Linked DNA regions of Homo sapiens. The protein of the gene in region 2 purifies or fractionates together with the protein of the main gene of each other region. This does not show direct contact. Each region holds a gene or a part of one and is shown on either strand. Other genes may lie near its edges.

The links. Proteins that work in one complex are often made in the same cells at the same time.
Region 1: the proteins of SLC7A11 (region 2) and LNPEP purify together in Homo sapiens (affinity purification with mass spectrometry; one large-scale study listed by BioGRID and IntAct). This does not show direct contact.
Region 3: the proteins of SLC7A11 (region 2) and TOR1AIP2 purify together in Homo sapiens (affinity purification with mass spectrometry; one large-scale study listed by BioGRID and IntAct). This does not show direct contact.
Region 4: the proteins of SLC7A11 (region 2) and CLSTN3 purify together in Homo sapiens (affinity purification with mass spectrometry; one large-scale study listed by BioGRID and IntAct). This does not show direct contact.

The regions. Positions count from the first base shown.
Region 1 is NC_000005.10:97,023,080-97,026,579, reverse strand, and holds part of LNPEP (leucyl-cystinyl aminopeptidase), read right to left. Parts: intron 2,060-3,500; coding exon 1,898-2,059; intron 1-1,897. UniProt on the Homo sapiens protein: Release of an N-terminal amino acid, cleaves before cysteine, leucine as well as other amino acids. Degrades peptide hormones such as oxytocin, vasopressin and angiotensin III, and plays a role in maintaining homeostasis during pregnancy.
Region 2 is NC_000004.12:138,218,350-138,221,849, forward strand, and holds part of SLC7A11 (cystine/glutamate transporter), read right to left. Parts: intron 1,017-3,500; coding exon 917-1,016; intron 1-916. UniProt on the Homo sapiens protein: Heterodimer with SLC3A2, that functions as an antiporter by mediating the exchange of extracellular anionic L-cystine and intracellular L-glutamate across the cellular plasma membrane.
Region 3 is NC_000001.11:179,850,304-179,853,803, forward strand, and holds part of TOR1AIP2 (torsin-1A-interacting protein 2), read right to left. Parts: intron 2,509-3,500; 5' UTR 2,363-2,508; coding exon 2,329-2,362; intron 1,061-2,328; coding exon 542-1,060; intron 1-541. UniProt on the Homo sapiens protein: Required for endoplasmic reticulum integrity. Regulates the distribution of TOR1A between the endoplasmic reticulum and the nuclear envelope as well as induces TOR1A, TOR1B and TOR3A ATPase activity.
Region 4 is NC_000012.12:7,147,371-7,150,870, reverse strand, and holds part of CLSTN3 (calsyntenin-3 precursor), read right to left. Parts: intron 1,900-3,500; coding exon 1,673-1,899; intron 1,349-1,672; coding exon 1,178-1,348; intron 328-1,177; coding exon 182-327; intron 1-181. UniProt on the Homo sapiens protein: Postsynaptic adhesion molecule that binds to presynaptic neurexins to mediate both excitatory and inhibitory synapse formation.

The DNA.
Region 1 (3,500 bases), on a different chromosome or scaffold from region 2:
TTCATGAAGAAGTGATGACTGAACTTAAATTAAAATTAGTATGGTTTCCTAATTAAAGCTGTGTAGCAAATTGAGAAATAACTGTTGCATTAGTCTACGGTTGATCTATAGATTGAAAATGTCATTTTTTTTAAATGAAGAAAGAACTCACCAATAAAATAGGCATTTACCTATATTGTCACATGACAATAAATAGTTTTTAAATAGTAAAAACATTTAGGAAATAAGTTCTGGTAGAATTTATTACAATTCGGGAGGTGGGTATTTTTTTCTGGTAAAAACCTTATTTGATTTGAATGGGCAGGTTAATTATATTACTATTCTTAAAAAAAACTAGGTCATTTGAATTATTTGAAAATTAGGATACATTTCAGAATATACTCTTATTAATGTTCGTAGCAAACATTTACTGACACTATGTACTAAATAATGTTCTAAGTCCTTGACACAACAATGCTATAAAGTAGGTATTTATTAATACTACCTAACTCAATTTTATAGTTGAAGAAACTGAGGTTATCTAATTGACCCACAGTCACACAGTAATAAATACCAAAGCCCGACATCTGAACAAAAGCAGTTCTCATCTACTATGCTATACTATCTGTTTATAGTGAGAAACCACGCCCCACTCCAAGACTGTGGCAGTATTTTTAGGAGAGAAAAAAACAAAAGCCCAACAAAACGTGATGGATTAAATAAATTATGATAGGGCCATACTACAGAATATTATGAACCCATAAAACACTTTAGTTTTTTTTTATATATAAAGCAGGCTTCATGAAGTGACATGGAAAATCTCATAGACTGATCATTCACTAAAAAGATGGTCACAAAACACTGGGTATGGTATAAACCTAATATGGTTTTTAAAATGCAGTTAAATATGTAGGTATGTGTGTATGTATGTACGTACATATGTACAAATATCCATTCCCACAGATGAATACAAAGACCAGGACTGACACTGTTGTTAACAGAGAAAACGAGAATGGAAGTGAAGGATCATGAGAAATACTTTCATATTTTACTCTATATTCTTAGGTACTGTTTAAATTCTTTATCATGGGCATTCTTAGTGTATTACTAGCATAGTTTAAAAACAGTGATTTTTCTCTATTTGCTTAAGTCAGAGGCTGGCTAATACTTTAAAGAAAATGACTATTTACAGCGTATCTTTTGGTAAGTGGGTCTGGACAGGTACTGAGGACATCTCTGGGACACTATTAAGATTTATCTGAGCAAAATCATACAACAGAAGTAATGAGACCCAGAAGCCTCCTTCTATCCTCAGTGCGACTTCTAACACCTGTGCTCTCTACAGCAGATACCTCTATATTCCTCTTGGCTATGTAGAGCTCCTCTACCCCACCACTGCCTGTTCTTCCTGTCAGGAGGCCCTACTTACTGCCCTACCTTCATCCATATGACACTCCTACTTCTGGGCCTTCATCACTACATATTAAAAAGGAAAAGTCTGACAAATAAATTCATATGAACGTAGAACCTAGAAGGTTTAATATGTGATTTTTTTTTTCTGAAATGCCTACATTTTTAAAATGACAGCTTGCACAAAGCAATGCCTTGGTCCTAAACTATGGAGTACCAATTGTGGTGTATAAGACAACATTCCAAGGGGAGGAAGACTTTTTGAGCAAGGAGTAGGAGGGGGCTGTGACTCCTGACATCTTGTAATCCCTTTTGGGCAAAGGATTTTCTGCTTGTCCATAAAGATAAAGCCCAGCACCTGTAGTCTCCTCACCACACTGTCCAACTTAGGCCTGGCCTGTAACAGAAGTGGGGAAAAGAGATCCCCTCAAAAATGAGCTCCTGACCAAGAGCACAGTGTTTGTATTCTTTTGGTTTCTGTATATCATATTCCTCGGTGATTTCATACCAGTAAAGCTTCCGCACATCCTCTGAGCTGGCAAGTGCTTCTAGTATTTTGTTCTTCTCTGCTTCAGAGCCTATAGAAATGTATTTGCCCAAAAGGAATGACCAGCCTTTGTCAGTTTTTGCTCCAACTTTGAACACAGTTGTCATGACATCAGTAGGTAGGCTGTAAGAGAGGTGGTCAAACATGAGAATAACAAGAAAATATTCTGAATACAAAGGCGAAGAGTTGGCTGTGGTGGAGTTTCTGGTGTGAGGGTTGGTAATAATAACAAGTTTGAGTACACAATTTAGGGTTGAGAAAAAGTTTAATTCAGTGACTGCTATCTTCCTAGTAGTGTGTCTATGGATACATCAGTTCAATTTAATATTCACAGAGTACTCACAAAGAACCAGGCAGGCGACTGGCTGGACACTAGGGAGCGGAAAAGGAATGAGAGCCTCTGTCCTCTGAGAACTCACAGGCTACTACGAAGTATAGAGCAATAACTATATGCATTACAATTCAGTGTGATAAGTTTCATGGTAGAACTATAGCAGTAAATGGGGTGCAGGGAGAAAACACAGTCTACTGCCTTTATTAAGATCTCAGAGCTGGGAAAGACCTCAAAACGTTATCCAAATCCTCCACCCCAACTCTTCATCTGATGCTTGAATCTTCTCTCCATAATGCACGGTAAGGAGCTGGAGAGAACTAATTACCCCCAAAAGCTTTTCTGTTAACTGCTAACTCTACCTGCTATGTTTTATTTCTAAATTAAGAGACTTGTTTATCACCTCACACCCATTAGGATGGCTGCTATCAAAAACCCAGAAAATGGCAAGTGTTGGCAAGGATGTAGAGAAATTGGAATGATGGTGCAGCTGCTGTAGAAAACAATATGGCAGTTCCTCAAAAAATTAAAATTAGAATTACCATATGATCCAGCAATACTACTTCCAGGTGTATTTCCAAAAGAATTGAAAGCAGGGTCTCTAGGAGATATTTGCACACCAATGTTCATGGCATTATTATTCACAATAGCTAAAAGGTACAAGCAGCACAAAGGTCTATCCAGGAATGAATGGATAAACAAAATGTGGTATATACATACAATGGAAAATTATTCAGCCTTTAAAAAGAAAGAAATTTTAGCCAGGTATGGTGGCTCATGCCTATAATCCCAGCACTTTGGGAGGCCTAGGTGGGCAGATTTTCTGAGGTCAGGAGTTCAAGACCAGCCTGGCTAACATGGTGAAACCCCGTCTCTACTAAATATACAAAAATTAGCCAGGTGTGGTGGCGGATGCCTGTAATCCCAGCTACTCCGGATACTGGGGCAGGAGAATCAATGGAACCCGAGAAGTGGAGGTTGCAATGAGCTGAGATCGCGCCACTGCACTCCAGCCTGGGTGACAGAGCAAGACTCCATCTCCAAAAAAAAGAAAAGAAAGAAAGAAAGAAATTTTAATGCATGCTACAACATGGAAGAACCTTGAAGACGTTATGGTAAATGAAATGAGCCAGTCACAAAAAAGCAAATTCTATATGACTTTACTTATATGAGATATACAGTGTAGTCAACCTCACAAAAACAGGAAGTAGAATAGTGGTTACCAGGGGCTGG
Region 2 (3,500 bases):
AATTAAAAAATAAACATTGCCATGATTTATCCCAAAACAATGAAATTTAATCTTACTACAATGATTTTGATAATTAAATAATACCTTGTAGGCTTTCTTGCAACCATCATCTCAACTAAATCTTACAAGGTCAATAAAATTTACTGAAGAGAAAGTCCCACTCTTATCCATGATTACATGATTACTGTTTTTCAAGTATCTGAACAAATAAGGTACAAATACAAAGTTTTAATGCCTTAACTAGAAAGGTAGGTATCACAGGTGGACATACATCAAAGGAAATATATCTGTGGCATCATGATTTTAATCATCTTCACTTTTTTAAATTTTCAGATGTTGGGGACATTTTAAGGAACATGTAAGGTCCTTTTAAATGTAATAGACTGTCTAGAAGAGTTGACTGCATTATCTTGGTTTCTCTTTCTCTGCCTTTAGATTACCATTTACCTTCTGGGAATGTCATACTTATTTCTACATCTGAGTTACTTCTCTCACGAGAAGCTGGAAAAAAAAATCAATTAATCACTATTTGTAAACACCCTTGGAGCTTTAGCTGAAAGGCCTTTTGACAAGCGAAGTATTATTCTTTAGTACCTTACGGCACTATTATGTCCTTACTGGTACATACTTATAAGTAATTTTTATTGGATCTTAAGACCCAGCATTTGTTTGTTTTTTATGACATCAGGCTAAATCTAGCAGTCACCTTGACTGGAAACCTGTTATGTTTAGTTGTCATGTGCAAAGTAATTGGCCTGGTGGAGGGGATAATACCTTATTTCTCATTTCAAGTAAAGCCTATCACACTGGATTATGGCTATTCACATTTGCCTGGCACCTTGCTTGGCACTTAATCTGAGTGCATAATGGGATTAATGAACTACGCAAACCACCAGATCTGGAGCTATCAACTTACCAGCCAGCATATGCATACATTCCATAATAAAAAGCCAGTGGCAACCGCGTAATACTTGAATCTCTTCCTGAAAAGGCGTCTTTAAAGTTCTGCGTTTGACCTGTAATTAGAATAGACTGATTTTAGGATTTTTCAAAGAATTGGTTCTTATTCACTCTTAACCAGAAACATGGGGGTGCGGAGAAACATACTGTTGTAAGTCTAGATTTCTTACTCTCTGTTGATTACCATCTTTATCAATACTGTACCCATTCTATAGAAGGGGTCCCAAAAGTATATTGATCATTAACACTATTTCATATTTCTCTTTTAATAAATTTATAACAAAGATGAAAATGGCATTGAAAAATAATCCTCTGTTTGAGTATGCCTCTATTGTGACCATAAAAGAAGACTAAAGGGTTTTCTGTAAATTATAATCTTTATGAATATGATAGAATTCTTAAAAGATAGAATTCTTAAAAAGATAATGTTTTGCTTGGCAAGAAAATGCGGAGAGGTATCCAAGGTTCTACCCTTAATGAGGAGATGGAAATAAATCCCAGGACTCCTTTCCTACACAATTTACCTTTCTGCTTTCTGTTTATCCCATGTTGTTCATTAGATGCCTACCTCCTAGAAGAGAAGTTGGAAAATCCTGAAGACCATGTGTGTCAACCCAAACTGCAAGCCTTTCTTTTTTTATTTTTTTCAAGATGGAGTCTCACTCTGTGGCCCAGGCTGGAGTGCAGTGGCACAATCTTGGCTCACTGCAACCTCCGCCTCCTGGGTTCAAGTGATTCTCCAGCCTCAGCCTCCTGAGTAGCTGGGATTACAGGAGCGCGCCATCATGCCCAACTAATTTTCATATTTTTAGTAGAGATGGGGTTTCACCATGTTGGCCAGGCTGGTCTTGAACTCCTGATCTTGTGATCCGCCCGCCTCGGCCTCCCAAAGTGTTAGGATTACAGGTGTGAGCCACTGCGTCTGGCTGCAAGCCTTTCTTATAGATAAAGTTTTCTTTATCTATAAGTTAAAAATGCCCATTCATGAAGTATTACCCATTCATGAAGTATTGCCTATGGCTGATTTCAACCTATAATAGCAGAGTTGAGACCATACAGCTAGCTTGAAAAATTGAAAATATTTACTCTCTTGTCCTTTACAGAGAAAGTCCACTCACTCTGTGACCCTGTCCTAGAGAATGACATGTTTTTTTTCCTAGAAATATTGAAAAGATATTATAATGAACTCTAAAATAAATAGGTTTCAACAAATTTTGCAGCAGCATGTGAATTGAACACTTCACCTTTTTCTCTATTTTATGAATCACATTGGAGCTTTTTCTTTTATATCTTTTGAATAGTTTTAAAAGTTAGAAATTCAGATTTACTTTAGTCAGTCAATATTCAAGCTTAAGCAGAAAAAATGTTTCTATTACCCAAAGAAAATAGCAAATGAGATTACCCAAATGGGAAGTGAGACTTTGTTTTAAAATAAAACTTCATGTAAATAAACAGAAGGGGGACAGGGGGTGGATGATGTGTATGAGACACTCTCTCTTCCAAGTCAAATCTCAGTTTTTCCTGCATTCATTGCCCAGGCATAACTTATATATAAATATAATATGTGTGAGTATGAAGACCAAAAATGGAGAATGTTGAATTATATACTAAACAATTTTTCTCTCAAATGATTCCCAAACATAGCTCACTTTTTAAATGACATGATAAATTCAGAAATGCCCATTTTACTAAAACATCATTGTGTCCTTCCAGGAGAAAAATATAAATAGTGGAATTCAGATAAAAGCATCTGTTGAATATTCTTTTATCATAATCTGTGGTCTCTTTGGCATAAAGGCACAATATTTCTTAGAGTGCAGCACCAAATAATCCATAAGAAAAACCAAATTCTATAAAGACTGGGTCACAAGCAAAGATCTTCAAAAGTGCCATTTTGAGAATATTACAAAAGAGAGGCATTTTGTTTCTAGAATTCAGGAATATTTTGGCTATATAACAGAGGTCTCATGAAGATTAAAGGCAATATTCAAAGGAAAGTTCAACAAACTCTCATAAGTGAATACATAACATACAACTACTTTCAGGATATGATTAGAATAGAAATAAAAGCACAATCTGTATTAACAAAGTCTCCTACTAGAGTTTCAGATTAATGTGAAAAATGTGTGATCATGTTAGAGATGAAGAAAATCACAATTTTACAGCAATCGAGCAAATATACCTGCTAATAATGGTCTCTAAAATGTTAAATTTACATTAAATGCGGTAATATTCTCAGGGAATTTCTCTGTTGTGTGAGATCTCTGAATAAGCCTGTCACATTAAGCATTGATATCATGATTATTGATTAAAGTGTCTCTGTATTTTAGCCACTAAAAAAACCTCAAGATATATCATGACCTCTGCTCTCAAGGAATTTGCAATAGAGCAACATTTGGGCAACCAAACCCTTCCTCATATACATATATAAATACCTGGTAAAAATTGAATAAAGTCTATAATGCTACCTATAGTATCTTACATTACACCAAAAAGAAGAAGAAAATAAATCTTAGTTTCAAGGGATAGCATATAATCTT
Region 3 (3,500 bases), on a different chromosome or scaffold from region 2:
ACATGCTTGTTCCTCTTAACATATAGGCAGAAAAAACCACGTATAGAGAAACTAACTGTCTTACTCAAAGTCCTATAAAACTGAAACATGACTGAGTTAAGGATACTGTCCCATTAATGCTCATTTTTAAATATACCCATCTCTTGATTTATGTAACATTTAGTTTCCCAAAAAGTAAAAGATTTTAAAAATTGTAAGTCGAAATATTCTCATAAGAAATAAAAAACCAGAAGCGAATTTTTTAAAAGTCATGCCCCTTTTTGTCATATCACATTAATATAAACAGTTAATAAAAACATGCTTAGAAATGCAGTTTATGTGTAGGAAGCAACTTAATATAGTGGAATGAGCTAGCCTAGATGAGAAACCTCATTCTAAAATCAACTCAGTCATGGCTTGGTGTGAGCTTGGGCAAGGCCCAAAGGCCTTACTCCTATGAAAGATGACAAAAGTTCTCTGGAAAGAAGGCCTCTGACTTCTGCTGTGTTCTCAGTTAACAGAGCAGTACAAAACAGGAGAGTAGTTCAGGGGGTTCTCTTACCTGGGGCCAGCAGTCGCCTCCTCAGTGTATCCTCACCCTCTTGCCCTGCACTGGAATGACCAGGACTCTGGGCCTCCTGGGAGTCTGTAGTAGGTGGTTCCTGAGATGCTCCAGTTCCGTCACTCGCTTCCTTAGGGAGGGCCACAGAGCTGCTCCCTAAGTGTGCATCTGCTCTTCCTACCTTGTCACTTGGAGAATGGCTGGGATCTGGATCCAAGGGTTCTTTACCCAGATTTTCTGAAGGGAGGTGATGCCCTTTTCCGCCATCCAGAAAACTCTGCTTGTTCTCATCTTCTGTTTTATCCTTTGGATGTTTCCCCACATTTGCTTCATCTGGACTTTCTGATTTATCACCTGTATCTGCACTTTCTGGACCTTCTGTCTCTACCTCTTGGTGGTCTTTGCTAAGACCACAGGCAGAGTGTAGGATCTCAGCTTCTTCAGCATTACTTGCTATGATTGTGGTCTCCTGCGCCTGAGAATTTACTGATGGATCATTTTCCAAATCCTTTTGAGAGTCTATTGAGATAAAAGTTTATAATTTTTATTGGAAAAAATTCCCCATAAATTTATATTTTAACAAGGTCCCTGTTTAATAATAATATTTACATAGATTTTCATGGTTTACAAGACACTTCCTAAACATTATTTCTCTTGGCTCCCACTAAAGGCAATTAAAACAACAACAAAAAAAATCTTATCATGTTAATAAATATAAAATGACACTAATATAAAACAAATTATATGACAGAACAAACTTTTGGCTATATTAAATATATCCTCTTCCCTAATGAAAGGCAATGCTCATCAATGGTAGCAAAACCTTATGCAAAAGGCTGATAGGGACTTTTATAGTGGATGAGCCAGACTGACAACTGCTGAACCCAGCGACCAATCTTCACATCATGAAAACAGGGAAACCCAAACAGATATCATTTACTTTCTAATACAATGCAGTAAGAAGTACTCTAGACCACTTGGGAAGTATTTTTGCCAAACAACTAAACTTAAATCTGGTAAGTTTCTAGAGCAACCAGTTTCCAAGAAATATAGGGATACAGGAATACATTAAATTATGCCTCAAGAATATAATCAGCAAAACCCAGCACGTGGGAAATTCCAAAAGACTTTGTTTCTTTAATAAAAGTAAGAATGGCCAGATGTGGTGGCTCATGCATGTAATCCCAGCACTTTGGGAGGCCAAGGCAGGTGAATCACCTGAGGTCAGGAGTTCAAGACCAGCCTGGCAACATGGTGAAACCCCGTCTCTACTAAAAATACAAAAATTCACTGGGTGTGGTGGCAGGCGCCTGTAATCTCAGCTATTCTGGAGGCTGAAGCATGAGAATCACTCGAGCCCGGGAGGCGGAGGTTGCAGTGAGCTGAGATCACGCCACTGCACTCCAGCCTGGGTAACATAAAAAAAAAAAAAAGGAGAAGAAGAGGAAGAAGAAAGATACCTTCTAAATATAGCACATCACAGGATATATATAACTCTAAAGATTTGTCTACCATCATTTTTTAAAGAAGCATTGTATTTTTCCATTACTATAAGTCCTTACTATTGGAGTCTCTAAAACATTTATCTTCCTTATATTATAATTAGGGTCTCGCATTATAGTAAAATTCAGTAAATTTGAAAGAATAAGTATAATCAAAACAAATGAACCCACTGAATTAGCTTTTTTACTTCAAAACCTCAGATTTTAGTCATCAGAGATTTTCTCTCTCTGCACACCCCTGGTTTCCTACAGCAGCAACCTCAGTGCCAGACAAATCAGTCTTACCCTCTTGAGGTTCCCTAAGTCCACTGTCGGCCATGTTTGTGTTCTATCTCTTCAGAGTTGGGAGGATACTTTTTTTAGTACTTGGTTTTCCTTGTGAAGATGTCTTGTTTTCTTCTTGTCCCAAGTCCCAACAGACTCATGCTTCCCATGGACCCAGGAAATAAGGCATATATACAGTGACTAAAACAAAATGAAAAAAAATTAAATGACTTTTTATCCATACAAGGGAGAAATGCAAGTATCAGCTTTATTTATTAAATATGTGTAGCTTGAGTACTATTTCCTCTGTGAAACTTTTTTCGTGAAGAAAATTTCCTTTCATGAGAATCATATTCCAAATCCTAGACTACTGAAAAAAGCTCCAGATTATTAATCTTTCATGAATTTCATAATCTAATATATTCCAGCATAGTTGAAAGAGTATAAAAAGTAAGATCAAGTGACCAGAATCTTCAACAGACTAGCTTGAATTAAAATAAAAAATAAATCTAAGAGTAGAAATTTAAGTCATTGCTGAAACAATCACTGCAGATTTCCTGGATGTCTTCAATTTCTGTCCCAGATAATTTTCTCATAGTCTGCCTATCAGGAGCTTTCACTTATATTAAAAAGTAACAATGCACAGGAGGTTCCCACAAACTGAGATGGCTGCTTTGAGGTGTACCACTACACATTTGGACTGACTTTGAAGTGGTTTTCTCGAAGTATTCTTTTGTAAAATATGGAGACAGATATTCCTTTATACAATGCCTTTTTATGCAATGCTCAAAGACAGACAAAGAAAATTATTAAGGTTTACACAAAAGGAATCAAAATCAAAGGCACTTTATAAGCAATAAAAACAGTCATATTTTATAGTTCTTTTTTTTGTCAAAAACAAATTGATCAATAAAGTTACTTAATATTTATTCCCTATGAAAATGAGAATAATGATATCTATGAGGCTTAAATACAAAAATATATAAGAAAAACCTGTGTGAAGTGTTATAGTTTTTTGACAGCCTAGCTGGAAGGCTAGCCAACTGGCCGTCTTTATGTTTTTCTCAGTACTCTTTTGTAAAATTTAAATTTACACATTAAAAACTTTGATCCCCAATGCCTACACGGTGCCTAGTGTATAGTAAGAACTCCATATTTTAACTTAAAAGCTTATGAAAAAATAAATGAATGTA
Region 4 (3,500 bases), on a different chromosome or scaffold from region 2:
TCTAGACCCCAGCCCCATCTCCTAACTACTGCCCCCATCTCCTTCTCCTCCACCCACTGCAAGGTCCAGCAGCCCTCCACGCTGCCATGTCCATGCCCACCAACTAACATTTTGAGTCCATGCCACCTCAGCTCCTTTCTGGGGGTGGGTAACTGTGGAAGGAAGGAGACTCTCTGGGTACCTCCACGATGAATTCATTGCTGGAGTAACGGCCATTCATTTCCGAGCAGGAAAGCCGGAACTTCCTGGTGTAGAGGGCAGCTCCGTGTCGCAGCCGATAACGAGCCTGCCTCAGGATCTCTTCATACACAGTGATGCTCTCCACCCCTGGAGATGAGGAAGCACCTCAGGGCAGGGGCCAGTGGAGGCAGGACCTGGGCAGGACCCTCTCTCCTGGACTCCCACCAGCTGACGCCACACAAGCTGTAGAGCAGGTCAGCCCCATCTCCGCAGAAGTGCGACCTGAGGTCGAAGGGAGGGATGCTCCCCTCCATCCCTGCCCACTCTGACTAACTAGGATGGAGAGATCAAGGCTCCATTTCCTGCTCTGTAGGTTCTGAGGAGGAATGGAAAGAAGGAGATAAAGACATCCTGAAAGACAGAAAGGGAGATGGCAAGCAGGAGGGAATATGAGAAAGAGGAAAATACAGAAGTCCTCAGTGAGCCCTGGAAAGGAGTGGAAATAGAAGGGAACTGATTATCTCCATCTTCTCCATTCTCCCTCCTGGCTTCCTTTGGAAACTACCAAATCATCACTCCCACTATTCACTAAGAGATGAGTACTTCTTGTAAAGCTCTGGTGTGCACGTGAGATGAGTGAGCTGAACAACAGAGATGACCGGTAACAAACAGACAGCTAGAGGGTTAGAAAGCTGGGCAGAGATGAGCCGAAGGAGGAGAGGAAGGTGAGAAGCCTGAATGGAAACAGGAGTGGGACCAGAAGTGGAGGTGAGCCAGGCTATGGAGAGGAGCAGGAAGACAGAAGCATTCGGAGCCTAAACCCAGCACACCTTCCCTAGGGACAATCAAAGCCAGAGGATCTTCCAGGCTAGGAAAATGCAAAACGGCACTTGTCCACATCCCTGGACCTGGAAGGAGGACCCTCTGGGCTTCCTAGGCCCTTACTTTTTGGGAGGGGCACACACACACAGAGGACAGGCCCTCAGGCCCCACTGACCAGCAATAGTGAGGTAGGCAGATGTGTTGGTGAGCTCCAGCCCCCGCTGCTGCAGAGAGGTTGTGTCCAGGAGCAGGCTTTCCCGCTCGGGATCCAGGTCATCCCCCACCAGAGAAATTTCACAGCCATCCAGGTTGTGCACAATCTCATCCGACATGCGTGTGTCTGTCACTGGGTTGGGGATAGTAGGGTCTGGGTCAGAGCCAAAGGGCCCACGGAGGTTCTGAGACCCAACCATGCCCTCATCACCACTCTCCCTCCCTTTCCAGGGCCAGGGAGAGGGAAGTCAGCATCATTTTCAAGAATATCATTATGCAACAATTCATTTCCACCCACGTGTTTTCCACTTGCTCTCCTTCTTAAAGGTAAGTTGTTCAGTCAAACAAACACAGGATGGAGTCGCTTTCTGCTTCCAGCCCCAGGAGTTCTCCCACACTCTGACTCCAGACACTGGCTGGTTCTCTGGATGGTGTTACTCCCCGAAGTCGTCCTTACCTGTGCCCTGCCAACTCTCATCCTTTTTGGCCTCCACCTGGTGAGAAATGGAGCAGGTGATTTGAAGATCAGGGAACAAAGGGACGCCGTTGGTTCCCTCAAAGTCCACAGCTGGGCGGGCAAAATGAGCAGTGCCACTCAGCAGGATCTGGGGGGCGTCAGGCTGAAGGACGACCACGTAGCCCTCCACTTCAGGGATGGAGACGCAGGACTCTTCGCTGAAGCACCTATGTAAGAAAGCAGGAGAAGCAGCATGTGACCCCAACACTTCCTCCCCGAAAACCCACATTCTGTTTCACTCCCCGCCCCAGCTACCTCTATCATAGAGCATCTCATGTCAGGAAGGGGCAGGGGAAGAAAGGGGGTCATGCCTCTGCATCCCAACCCCCACAGCAGTTGAAGGGGGACATATCCTTTCCTGGTAGGATGTCACCAAGGAAAATGTCGAGGACAGAAGGTCAGGTAATCCCAACCTGTGGGTGTGATCACACCATCAATGCCCTACCCCAGGATTATGGAGTACCTATAGATGCTATTTTAATGAAAAACAAAGCAAACTGAACTGACAAACAGGTATATATACACACACAGTTCTTTATCCAGCAGTTTAAAAGTACATGGACTCAGTATACTATCCGGCACATATGCGCCCAAAATTATTCAACAATAAAAGTAGAATGTGGACATCTATCAAAGGATGTCCTCCTCTTTGGTGTGTCTTTCATTCCCTTCAATATCGGGGAAACACACTTTGGTAGGTGAGATCATCTGACCACCTTGGACCTAGATCCACCGTCTCATGAAGCTTGAGGATCCAGGCATCAGGACAAGCTATCCTTAGAGGACTCTGTTGAGCCAGACCAACCAACAGCACAGCTGCTCAGCAGTGATGCTCCCAGGATCACATTTAGCCCCACCTTTACCAGTAATAACAACACCTCACAATCAATAGCCCTTGCCAGTTTATGAAGCATTTTCCCACATTTCTTTCTTTCTTTCTTTCTTTCTTTCTTTCTTTCTTTCTTTCTTTCTTTCTTTCTTTTTGATGGAGTTTCACTCTTGTTGCCCAGGCTAGGGTGCAATGGTGCGATCTTGGCTCACTGCAACCTCTGCCTCCTGGGTTCAAGCGATTCCTCTGTCTCAGCCTCCCAAGTAGCTGGGATTATAGGGCGCATGCCACCACACCCGGCTAATTTTTGTATTTTTAGTAGAGATGAGATTTCTTCATATTGGCCAGGCTGGTCTTGAACTCCTGACTTCAGGTGATCTGTCCGTCTCGGCCTCCCAAAGTGCTGGGATTACAGGCGTGAGCCACCGCACCTGGCCCATATTATTTCATTATATTATAACCTCATTTCTATGCTGTAAAATGCCTAAAGCTCAGGCTGGGCATGATGGCTCATGCCTGTAAATCCTGGCACTTTGGGAGGCTGAGGCGGGAGGATCCCTTGAGCTTAGGAGTTCGAGATCAGCCTGGGCAACATAGTGAAACCCCGTCTCTACAAAAAATACAAAAATTATCCAGGTGTGGTGGTAGATGCTTGTAGTCCCAGCTACTCAGGAGGCTGAGGTGGAAGGAACACTTGAGCCCAGGAGGCAGAGGTTGCAGTGAGCTGATGAGATCAGGCCACTGCACTCCAGCCTGGGCGACAGAGTGAGACCCTATCTCAAAAAAAAAAAGAAGAAAAGAAAAGAAAGAAAAAGAAAAAGAAACAATCAAGGCTTAAACCAGAGTCTAGGCTTAAATCATTCTTCTCCTTCCAGGTCCACTGATTTTTTTTTTTTTTTTTTTTTTTTTTTTTGGCAGAGTCTCTCTCTGTTGCCCAGG